Linked DNA regions of Homo sapiens. The protein of the gene in region 1 purifies or fractionates together with the protein of each later gene. This does not show direct contact. Each region holds a gene or a part of one and is shown on either strand. Other genes may lie near its edges. The genes, in order: COX20, UQCC2 and UQCC1.

The links.
Region 2: the proteins of COX20 (region 1) and UQCC2 purify together in Homo sapiens (affinity purification with mass spectrometry; 3 studies listed by BioGRID and IntAct, with this or other methods). This does not show direct contact.
Region 3: the proteins of COX20 (region 1) and UQCC1 purify together in Homo sapiens (affinity purification with mass spectrometry; 3 studies listed by BioGRID and IntAct, with this or other methods). This does not show direct contact.

The regions. Positions count from the first base shown.
Region 1 is NC_000001.11:244,838,506-244,842,257, reverse strand, and holds part of COX20 (cytochrome c oxidase assembly protein COX20, mitochondrial), read right to left. Parts: intron 315-3,752; coding exon 200-314; intron 64-199; coding exon 1-63. UniProt on the Homo sapiens protein: Essential for the assembly of the mitochondrial respiratory chain complex IV (CIV), also known as cytochrome c oxidase.
Region 2 is NC_000006.12:33,704,949-33,708,700, forward strand, and holds part of UQCC2 (ubiquinol-cytochrome c reductase complex assembly factor 2), read right to left. Parts: intron 1-3,752.
Region 3 is NC_000020.11:35,405,306-35,409,057, forward strand, and holds part of UQCC1 (ubiquinol-cytochrome c reductase complex assembly factor 1), read right to left. Parts: intron 1-3,752. UniProt on the Homo sapiens protein: Required for the assembly of the ubiquinol-cytochrome c reductase complex (mitochondrial respiratory chain complex III or cytochrome b-c1 complex). Involved in cytochrome b translation and/or stability.

The DNA.
Region 1 (3,752 bases):
AGCATCCCAAAGTCACCAAGATAAACCCTCCTACTCCAACATCACATGATCTTCTAATTCTACCTGTAAAAATAAGCATAACAATTAATTAGAATATAATTACGTTATATACATTACTCCACCTAGAAAAAAAAATAGTTCATTATGTAGAGAAATGCTTTTTTTAGTACATAGAGAAATAAAAAATACAGATACTCACTAGTGAACAAAAAATGTCCAAAGCCAGCCACAACAGATCCTAATGAACCATACAATATTGAATGCCGGGCGCAGGGAGTATTTTCAACATCTAAAAATCCTAGGAGCTTAAGGGACTAGAATGAAAAAAAAGAACCTAGATTGAGTAAGAAAGTATTTCATTTTGGGGTGCTTTGGCAAAAATGACAATACACCATTTCTTTTCTTGTAGTTGAGGGTTTAAACTAGAGTATGTGCCACGTGACAACCTAAATCAGCTTGCGTTGTCTTTGTCCACCTTTGGTATGCAGTCTGAATCTTTAAATCCGAAAACCTTACAAATTGGACCGGAAAACCCTTAAGCAGTAGGGTAACTTGGAGCTGTATCTTAATTTGCTAATCAACTGACTTGGAAATAGGATAATTCATTTTATGAGCTCTTTAAATGAGTTTATTTGGGAATATGCCTATCATTGGAATTGAAAGCAGCATAGCTTGCTTCAGTAACTCCAATAATTTGGGAAGCAGAAATGGAAAAAGTAATTTGAGTCATGTTTGCTTATGTAGTGCCGTTTAAAATTCCCCTAGTAATTACCTTTCATATTTTATTAACTAGGTTAACATCAACTGTGGTTGTAAGAGTAAATGTTTCACCTTAAGATAAACATGGGCAATATATTAAACTCTAGTCTGTTTTCTTGCCTGTGAAGTGAGGCTGCACTTGATTATATTTGATTCTTTGTTCGTAATACATGGGAACGACAGCTAAGTGTGGTGAAAAACGCGGGGATCCAAAGAGCTGGATTTTTATCTCAGATCTGCCGCTAACTTTTGTATCCTATAGGCTACTTTTATTTCTATGGTCTCAATCTATAACATGAATGGGTTGGGTTAAATGACTGAAGTTCCTTCAAGTGCTAAAATTCTTTTTCTACAGTCTTCATTGGATTTATGTATTTCTTATTCCTAATATGTTTAACTGGGATGTCTGTCACTCTAGGGCGGCAAGACAGACATTTAAAAGTAACAGTCACACTGCTGAACTGGCATTTCTGTTAACACAAAAGTTTAGAAAACTCACGGTAACTGTTACTTGATTTAAGTGTATATAAAATTTTCAGTAAGGCTGCTTTTAAAAGGAACCACTGTCCATTTAAAGGTTTCATAGTTATCTTCAATGGGTTAGTATTGTTTGGGGCAGGACATTAAACTAGAAGGGATTCTATAGGATGAGGTGATACCTAGAAGGTAATATATTGTAAGGCAAAAGAGATTAGAAGAAATGGGGAAAGGATAGTAAAAGGCAAGTCAGATTAAAGGTTGAAACATGAAGATATTCTCAATTGTATTTCTGCCTATGTTTGCTTTTTTGGCTCAAGCATCTGTTGGAAGAGACAAAATGTGACTTGGTTCATAATAAAGCAAGAATTATTTACTCTCGGATCATTCTATTCCATTTTTTCCCTCTGTCTGGCCCCGTTCCCACCCGCATGCCTAACATAGGATTGCTTCAAAGCTTTGCAGTACAGTTCTTCACATTACCAAGAGGTTGGGGGATTTCATTTAGCAAGACGACTTTTTCCTATCAGCTTGAGAGCCCAGGGGACATATGATCATGTGGGTAGTGTTATGCAGGTGAGGAATGCTGGACTTAGCGCTCCAGTCCAGGACTACCTCTAAACTAGACTATTTCCCCAAGGATGGGATGCTGGGGCCAGAGGATTAGTACCAGTTTGATCTAGTCTTAGGTGCAAAGATGCAAGTGTGAGACCAGCTTGTACCACAGGATAGAATTAAGTATTTTCTAGTCCCACTCTCAGATTCTGATTTACAATCACTGGAATCTATGTTTAGAAAACTCTAGGTGGTTTTTTCTGATGACTGTCATATTGGGGAAACACTGCTTTAGGAAATTTTATTTTTTTAAATAAAAGTAAATTTGCAAACAATAGGAAAATAGCTCAGCTGACTTTAAAGGCAAATATCTAAATAGAAGCTACACATCTTATTTAAAATAGTGCCTTCTGAAACAAACCCAATCCCCAACAAAACTCTGGTCTAAAATAATAGTGGTTGATCTCATAATTAAGAGCTGCTGGTGGGGGAGGTAGGTATTAGTGCCAGGCTCTCTACATGTTTTTTAATTCTCTAGCCTTTGTGTGAGATTACCTCTGAAACAGGCTCGGGGACTTAAGAGGCTAATAATAAGTGTTGGCAGGAGTGGAGGCAGAAGTCAGTTTCACCACAAAGCCTATGACATTTTCATTGTGCCAAACCACATCATTAAGAAGTAACCAAGGCTGGAGGGTTTGGTGGGGAGCTTTCCAGTTGTCACATATCTAAGGAGTAATAAGATTCAGTACATAAATCCCTGCAATTTCTATCAAAACAGGAAGAATATGCAACGACTTGAGCCTGTATACCTTTACAGTTAAGTACACTGAACTGTAAAATGCTCAGAAGTGGAGATGAATAAAGGATCCCGGGCATAACTCCCTTTGAAGTATTCTATTTATATACGGAAATATTCTGTTCATAATATACATGCCTTTAACATTTCTCTTCTATTCCTTAAGTAGCCTGCATACTTAAGATTTAACTCTTTGCCACTAACAAACGGGAACCCTTAAAAATAAATTAAGGAAATGTCAGACATTTTTTAAGCTTAGATTTAGAAAAGCAGCTTTACCAGCTCACCCTGATCAATCTAAGGAAAGCTCAAGAGATTTCCAAGCCAGAATGTCAATAATGTATAGAAATAGATCTGATCAAATTAGAGACAGTTGATTTTCCACCACTAAATCTGCTTCAGTGCCCGTATTTCTTTCCTCTGGTTGCAAAGGATGAATTGGCCCTATTCCTATCTAATGCTAGTCTTCCCACTTGGGCACTTGATTCCCCTCTTGCATACTCAAGGGCTTGGCTTCTATAGCTACCCCTTTCATTTGCATCGTTAGTTTTTTCACTTGCAATAATTTACTATCAGCCCTCTTGGCCAGGTGCAGTGGCTCACCCGTCATCCCAGCACTTTGGGAGGCCAAAGTGGGTGGATCACTTGAGGTCGGAAGTTCGAGACCAGCCTGGCCAACATGGCAAAACCCTGTCTCTACTAAAAGTACAAAAATTAGCCAGGAATGGTAGCACATGCCTGTAATCCCAGCTACTCGGGAGGCTGAGGCAGAATCGCTTGAGCCCAGGAGGCGGAGGTTGCAGTGAGCCAAGATGGCACCACTGCACTCCAGCCTGGGCAACAGAGCAAGAAGACTCCATCTCAAAAAAAAAACCCAAAAATCCTCTATACACCCCTCTCCTCTCATCAGCCACCTAAACCACCATCCTTTTGGGGCAAAACTTCTGAGTGTAGGTGTGCTTTTCTACTTAAAACCTCCCATTCTCCCTTTAACTCACTTGAGTGAGGCATCTATCCACTGAACTTCACTTGACACCAGTCAAGACCTCTAAAAGACATCCACTGCAGTCTAAATCCGCATCTCAGCATATGTGGCACAAATTATCATTTGTTTTTGAAACTTTTTTACTTTTACTTGGCTTCAAATACGTCTCCTGGTTTTCTA
Region 2 (3,752 bases), on another chromosome or scaffold:
CCCTTGCAGAGTGCTGCTCCTATAAGAGCAAAATGTACAAAGTCTAAGTGCAAAAAGCAAAGTGACCCTCAGGTACTCTCACTTCTTTTTTTTTTTTTTTTTAGATGGAGTCTCACTCTGTCGCCCAGGCTGGAGTGCACTGGCACAATCTTGGCTCACTGCAAGCTCCGCCTCCCGGGTTCATGCCATTCTCCTGCCTCAGCCTCCCAAGTAGCTGGAACTATAGGCGCCCGCTACCACGCCTGGCTAATTTTTTGTATTTTTAGTAGAGATGGGGTTTCACCGTGTTAGCCAGGATGGTCTCAATCTCCTGACCTTGTGATCCGCCCACCTCGGCCTCCCAAAGTGCTGGGATTACAGGCTTGAGCCACCGCACCCGACCACTCTCACTTCTGAAACTTCCTGTGTGAAAGAGACAGTCTCCTAGAGAGTTCCCAGAATTCCTGGACTCAGCTGTAACCTGAGAAAGAAAACCAAACACCTGAGTCCTAAAACAGACTTGCCATCCAGTTTCCCGTCTGAGGTCAGAAGGTGTCTAACTGAGGCTGTAAAAGCAGCTCAGTGGAGGTGACAGGAGTTTGAGACATGCCCATTTCTAGCCAAGTTCTTACTGCTTGAGGAGTGATGAAGCCTTGGTCAATGCTGGGTTCCTAGCCACAGATAACTCAAGCTCAGCAATTAAAAAAGTCATGCTTACTACTTAAAAGGATGTCAGTGGAGACATCTGTCGAATTCCAGAAGCCTCACCACGTTCCTATAGCTTACACTTTATTCACAGACTCCAGCACTAACATTCCTGAGCTCTGAAATGCAGTTTTTCTGATGAAATGGACGGTGCATTTTTAGAAATATTCTTAATACATGCTTTAAATTACCTGATTTTGCATTCACACCTAATGAGATCACAGACGTTTTAGGACTAATAGCAGTGCTGGGTTTGAAAAGGCAGCAGTGGGGACATTATGAAAAATTCAGCACTGCTCCCCAAATGTGAATAAAATAGATGTTCATCTGACGAGTGTCCTTTATAGCTCTATTTTTGCTCCTTTTGCATTTCCCCTGTTCAGTCGTCAGTAAATTTCTCTTTACCATATTAAACTTTTATACATACAAATCTACATCAGTGCTGCAGGCACTGATTTCGATTTTGCAAATTGAATTTTGGGTGGTGACAGCAATTGGTACAGCGGCCCCTATTCTAGTCACACAAAGGGACGCATAAGCACTTTTGGGAAAGGGTGTTGCAAATTGCTTTGCTAATTAAGGTAGAGCTGGATTCGGTCCAGGAGGATCTATAAAAAAAGGTTTTCAAGACTTGGTAATGAACTTCTGAAATGAGTTCATTCTGTTATGGGAGCCTATTCCCTTCAATTGAGTTGAAAATGTATTTCTTGAGCACCTACTATAGAAAGAGTGCTCCACTAGGGGACGGTGAGGGGCCACAAAGACGACGACCCAGGCCAGCTGTGGAGAAGCTGGCAGGCACACTACAGAGACAAGATACACATGAATTAGAAACCAACCCTGCCCGGGGCAATGTGTAAGTGAGAGCCAGATCTGCGGAGCACGGGCCGCTGCACGAGACCCGAGGTGGGAGTTGGGCACCTGGCTGTGCTGATGGGGAGGTGTGGCAGGAAAGGGCTGAGTTTCACTGCAGCGACAGTGCAGAGAGTGAGGAGTGCCAACCTGGGCATGAGTGACACAGGGACCAGAAATGACTGGGAGGATGAGGCATGAAGAGGCACAGGACAAGAGTGTTTTAGGCAGACAGGGCTTTTAAGGGGAACCCAGGGAGGGCTCCAAGAGCCTGGGAAGCCACCAAATTCTTGACAAACTCTGTGTTTGGGTTTTTTGCGGTTGTAGGGGTGCAGTGATCCACAGCGCACTTAAGTCTCAAAGGATCAGAATTGCTTGTACCATGGCCAGTTTGGGAGACCATGAGAAGACACCCTTGCTGAGCCTGGGGCTCATGTTAGGGTGGTGCGAGGCAAGGTTGGAAACACAGGCTGGGACCAAGGATCAGAGGCACTGCAGGTCTCACAAAGTTGCCTGCCACCTGCCCAGGAGGCAATGGGCAGACCCCAAACATCTTTGAATAAAGTAGTGACCCACCAGAAGTGGCCAAGAATTTATCCCTTCAGGTGGAGCACTGCAGCTTTACATATGCAGAGATAAACGCCACCCCTTGGTGTGAATACTACCCTAGCTCACACTGGCGCCATTCAGAATTGGGAGAGAAAAAAAGATGGAGATGTTTGTATTCCCTCTTAGAGATGATTCTCCTTACAACTCCAGGTTTTCGATGGGCTCAATACATAATTAAAAATAGGATAATCTGTTCTTAGGACACTCTTCAAAAGCATAACTTCAGGGGGCCCACAAGTGGGGGTGAGCAACGTTGAGATGGCTTCACCGTGGCCAGCATATGCCAGGTGGCTTGGGAGCTAGCTCCCTGCCACACTGAGGAATGCCAAGGACCAGGCCTCAAATGGATGACTGAGAAAACAGAATCAAAAAAACCTTTGAATTCTCCTCTGAGAAGGTGGAAATACCATTTACCTTATTAGAAACCCAAGAAAAAGTTTAACTTCTTTCAAACTGGGCCAATATTATTATACTTAAACTTGCATACAATACAGTTAGAACTCCCTGGTGGGCGAAGAGCAGCAGCTCTTCTAGGACGCCCCTCGGAGTTGCACCTTGTGCTACATAAGTGGGTGCTGGTGTGCAGTCCGGGATCTTTTAGGAAGCACCTAATGAACTCATTAGAAAGATCTGCTCCTTTCTCTGTTGTTAGGTCAACAATTACATTTGTTGTGCCACCTTCCCCCACGTTGCAATTCTTTTATTAAGCTCTCAGCGCTGTAGGAAACACGTGTTCTTAGACAAACTGTATTCAAAATTGGCAAAGCCCATAAACACTGACTTTTTAAAACTACACAATAGGATATGGGGTGTAAGAGGAGTTACATGTGTTCCCGCTCCCACCACCACCTCCCCACTTGGTGGGTTTAGGGTGGACCACAAGACTCCCCAGAGGGCAATTTGAGGTGGAATAAATGGAGGCAGTGGTTTTTGTACTCTGGTTTTGTGTATGAATTATTGATTTGCCCTTTAGTTAACCCAGCTTTTCTCCGCCTGGTGTCCCACCCAGGACCATCTTTCTTCCCATCTGGACTGGTAGTGGCTGGGGCAAAGAATAGGTGGGTAAACACAGGGAGTTCCATTTGCTGCCCAAACTATCTATGGCCCAAAAAGGTTTGAACGGGCAACCAGGGGAAGGAAGTGGTTTGACGTTCATGGAATAAGAGGTTGTTCTAACAATAACTTGGAACAGCAGCTGAGGAAAGGCCAGGCACCCAGGAGACGATGCACACTAGGGCCAGAGGGGCTGGGTCTGTTTCTCACTTGGCTTGTCTCTTATGGCTACGGAACCCCCAGTGCGTTGTCTTGTTTTTCTGATGTTTCCTCATCTGTAAAATGGGAACAGTAATGGCTACCACTCAGCTGTACTAAGGATTAAATGAGATCACGCCGGCAAAGGTGCACTGTGCACCTTTCAGGGTGATCATTAGGACGAAGGAAGCCAAGAGGCTGAGAGGAGGACTGACTGCCTCTCTCCTCTACGGAAATGGAAAGACGGCATGAGCAGAGCTACTTTCCCCTCCAGTTCTGTCTTCTGGCAACCGGCTTAACCAAGGAGGAGCTCCATACTAGTCAGTCAACTGGATCTAAGCCCCACCTCCTGCTGC
Region 3 (3,752 bases), on another chromosome or scaffold:
ATACAGACTACAGAATCAATTCAGAAAAGTCACTAAACAAAAATACAACAGCAAACCCTGGGAAGGGAAACAATCTGATTTCCGGAGTGGCCACATTATTTAAAATGTCCAGTTTTCAACAACAAAAAGTTATAAAACATGCAAAGAAACAATAAAGTATGGCCCATACACAGGGGGAAAAAATGCAATCAATAGAAACTGTCTCTAAGAAAACCCAGGCAGCAGACAAAGAGATTTTTAACTATTTCAAATATGTTCAAAGATCTAAATGAAAATATGTCTAAAGAACTATAAGAAAGTGGCCGGGTGCGGTGGCTTACACCTGTAATCCCAGCACTTTGGGAGGCCAAGGCAGGGGGATCACCTGAGGTCAGGAGTTTGAGACCATCCTGGCCAACATGGTGAAACCCCATCTCTACTAAAAATACAAAAATTAGCCGGGCGTGGTGGCAGGCACCTGTAATCCCAGCTACTCAGAAGGCTGAGGCGGGAGAATCGCTTGAACCCGGGAGGTGGAGGTTGCAGTGAGCCAAGATGGCACCAAAGAGAATATCAACAGAAAGAGAAGTTATTTTTTTAAAGACAAAATAAATTCTAGAATTGAAAAGTCCAACAACTAAAATGAAAAACTCATTAGAGGGACTGAACAGCAGATTTGAACAGGCAGAAGAAAATAATCAGTGGTCTTGAAGATAGGTCAATTTAGATCATCCAGTCCAAGGAACAGAAAGAAAAAGCAATAAAGACAAATTAGTAGCCTCAAAATGAAAAGCAAAAACAAAAAAAGAAAAAAAAGAACAAATTTAACAGCCTCAGACTGTGGGACACCATCAAACACACCAATATATGTATAATTAGAGTCTCAGAAGGAAAGAAAAGGACCGAAAAATATTTGAAGAAATAATGGCAGAAAACATCCCAAACATAATGGAAAATGGTAATTTAGGAATCCAAGAAGCTCTACTAACTCCAAATAGGATAAACACAAAGAGAGCCACAGACACATCATATGCAAGCTGCCAAGAGACAAAGATTCTTTAAATGAGCAAGAGAAGAAACTCATCATATACAAAGTATCCTCAAGAACATTAACAGTGGATTTCTTCTCAGAAACTGTAGCAGCCAGAAGGCAGTGGGATAAAATAGTCAAAACAAGGAAAGACAAAGATTTTCAAACAAGAATTCTATATCCAGCAAAACTATTATTCAAAAGTGAAGGAAAAAATGAAGATTTCCCAGATAAACAAAATGGAAAGAATTTGTCAGTAGTAGACTTGCCCTGCAAGAATAAGGCAGACCTTCAGGTTGAAATGAAAGGAAACTACAGAATAACTCAAATCTACATGAAGAAATAAAGTAGACTGGTAAAGGTAACTGTTTAGGTAAATAAAAAATACAGTACAAATGGATTTTTTGTTTGTAATTCTTTTTCTTTTTAATTTAAAAGACAACTACAAGAAGAAATAATTATAAATCTACATTGGTAGACATATAATGCATAAAGATGTAATTTAGATGACAATAACACAATGTTCGGGAAGGAACAGAGCTATATAGAAAGAAAGTCTTTACATATTACTGAAATGAAGTTCGTATTAATCCAAACAAGACTGTTATGAATTAAGATGTTCATTGTAATCCCAGGGCAGCCACTAAGAAAACAGCTCATAAAATATAGTAAAAGCTTGTAACATGTACACAAATTAGCTCAAAATGGATAAAAGACCAAAATGTAGGACCTAAAATGATACAACTTTCAAAAGAAAACTTACGGGAATGGCTTCATGACATTGGATTTTGCAATGATTTCTTGGACATGATATCAAAAAAGTAGGCAATAGGCCAGGCATGGTGGCTCACACCTGTAACCCCAGCACTCTGGGAGGCTGAGGTGGGCGGATCACTTGAGGCCAGGAGTTTGAGACCAGCCTGGCCAACATGGGAAAACCCCCTCTCTATTAAAAACATAAAAATTAGCCAGGTGTGCTGGTGCATGACTGTAATCCCAGCTACTTGGGAGGGTGAGGCAGGAGAATTGCTTGAACCTGGGAGGCAGGGGCTGCAGTGAGTCTAGATTGTGCCACTGCACTCTAGCCTGGGTGACAGTGCAAGACCCTGTCAAAAAAAAAAGAGTGGGCAATAAAAGAAAAAAAAATAAGTTGGACTTCATGAAAATTTAAAACTTTTGTGTATCAAAGAATAGTATCAACAGACTGAAACAGCAACCCATAGGATAGGAAAAATACATGCAAATCATATATCTGATGAGGGATTGATATTCAAAATATATGAAAAACTTGCCAGATGCAGTGGCTCATGCCTGTAATCCTTGCACTTCGGGAGGCCAAGGCGGGTGGATCACCTGAGGTCAGGAGTTCAAGACCCGCCTGGCCAACATAGCAAAACCCCATCTCTACTAAAAATACAAAATTTAAGGCTGGGCGTGGTGGCTCACGCCTGTAATCCCAGGATTTTGGGAGGCCGAGGCAGGCGGATCACCTGAGGTTGGGAGTTTGAGACCATCCTGACCAACATGGGGAAACCCCATCTCTACTAAAAATACAAAATTAGCCAGGTGTGGTGGTGCAGGTCTCTAATCCCAGCTACTTGGGAGGCTGAGGCGGGAGAATCACTTGAACTCAGGAGGCAGAGGTTGCGGTGAGCCGAGATCATGCCATTGCACTCCAGCCTGGGCAACACGCGTGAAACTCTGTCTCAAAAAGAAAAAAGACATGAAGAAGTGCCCAATATCACTAGTCACTAGAGAAATGTAAATCAATAATACAATGAGACACCATTTCATACTCATTAGAATGGCAATTGTCAAAAAACAGAATATAAGGCCACGTGTGGTGGTTCACACCTGTAATCCTAACACTTCGAGAGGCTGAGGCAGGAGTATCACTTAAACTCAGGAATTTGAGACCAGCCTGGGCAACATAGCAAGAACTCCTCTCTACTAAAAATTTAAAAACTAGCTGGGTGTGTTGGCACACACCTGTAGTCCCAGCTACTCGGGAGGCTAAGATGAGAGGATTACTTGAGCCCAGAAGTGGAGGCTGCAGTAAGCTGTCATTGGGCCACTGCACTCCAGCCTGCATGACACAGCAAGACCTTGTCTCAAAAACAAACAAACAAAAACCAGAAAATAACAAGTGTTGGCAAGGATGTGGTGAAACTGGAACCCTTGTGCACTGCTAGTGAGAATGTAAAACAGTGTATCTGCTGTGGAAAACAGTAGGACAATTCCTCAACAAATTAAACAGGCTGGACATAGTGGCTCACGCCTGTAGTCCCAGCACTTTGGGAGACCGAGACAATGGATTGCTTGAGCCCAGGAGTTCAAGGCCAGCCTGGGCAACATAAGGAGACCCCATCTCTACAAAAAAGAAAAAAAAAAGTAGCCAGGCGTGGTGGCACATGCCTGTGGTCCCAGCTACTCAGGAGGCTGAAGTGGGAGGATCACTTGAGCCCAGGAGGTCAAGGCTGCAGTGAGCTATGATTGAGCCACTACACTTCAGCACGCATGACAGAGCGAGACCCTATCTCCAAAAAAAAAAAAAGAGAAAATTCTGACACATGCTACAACATGGATGAATCTTGAGGACATTACGCTAAATGAAATAAGCCAGTCACAAAAGGTCAAATACTGTATGATTCCACTTATATGAGGTACACAAAGTAGTTAAACTCACGGAGACAGAAAGTAGAATGGTGGCTGCCAGGGGCTGGGGAGAAAAGACTATAGAGAG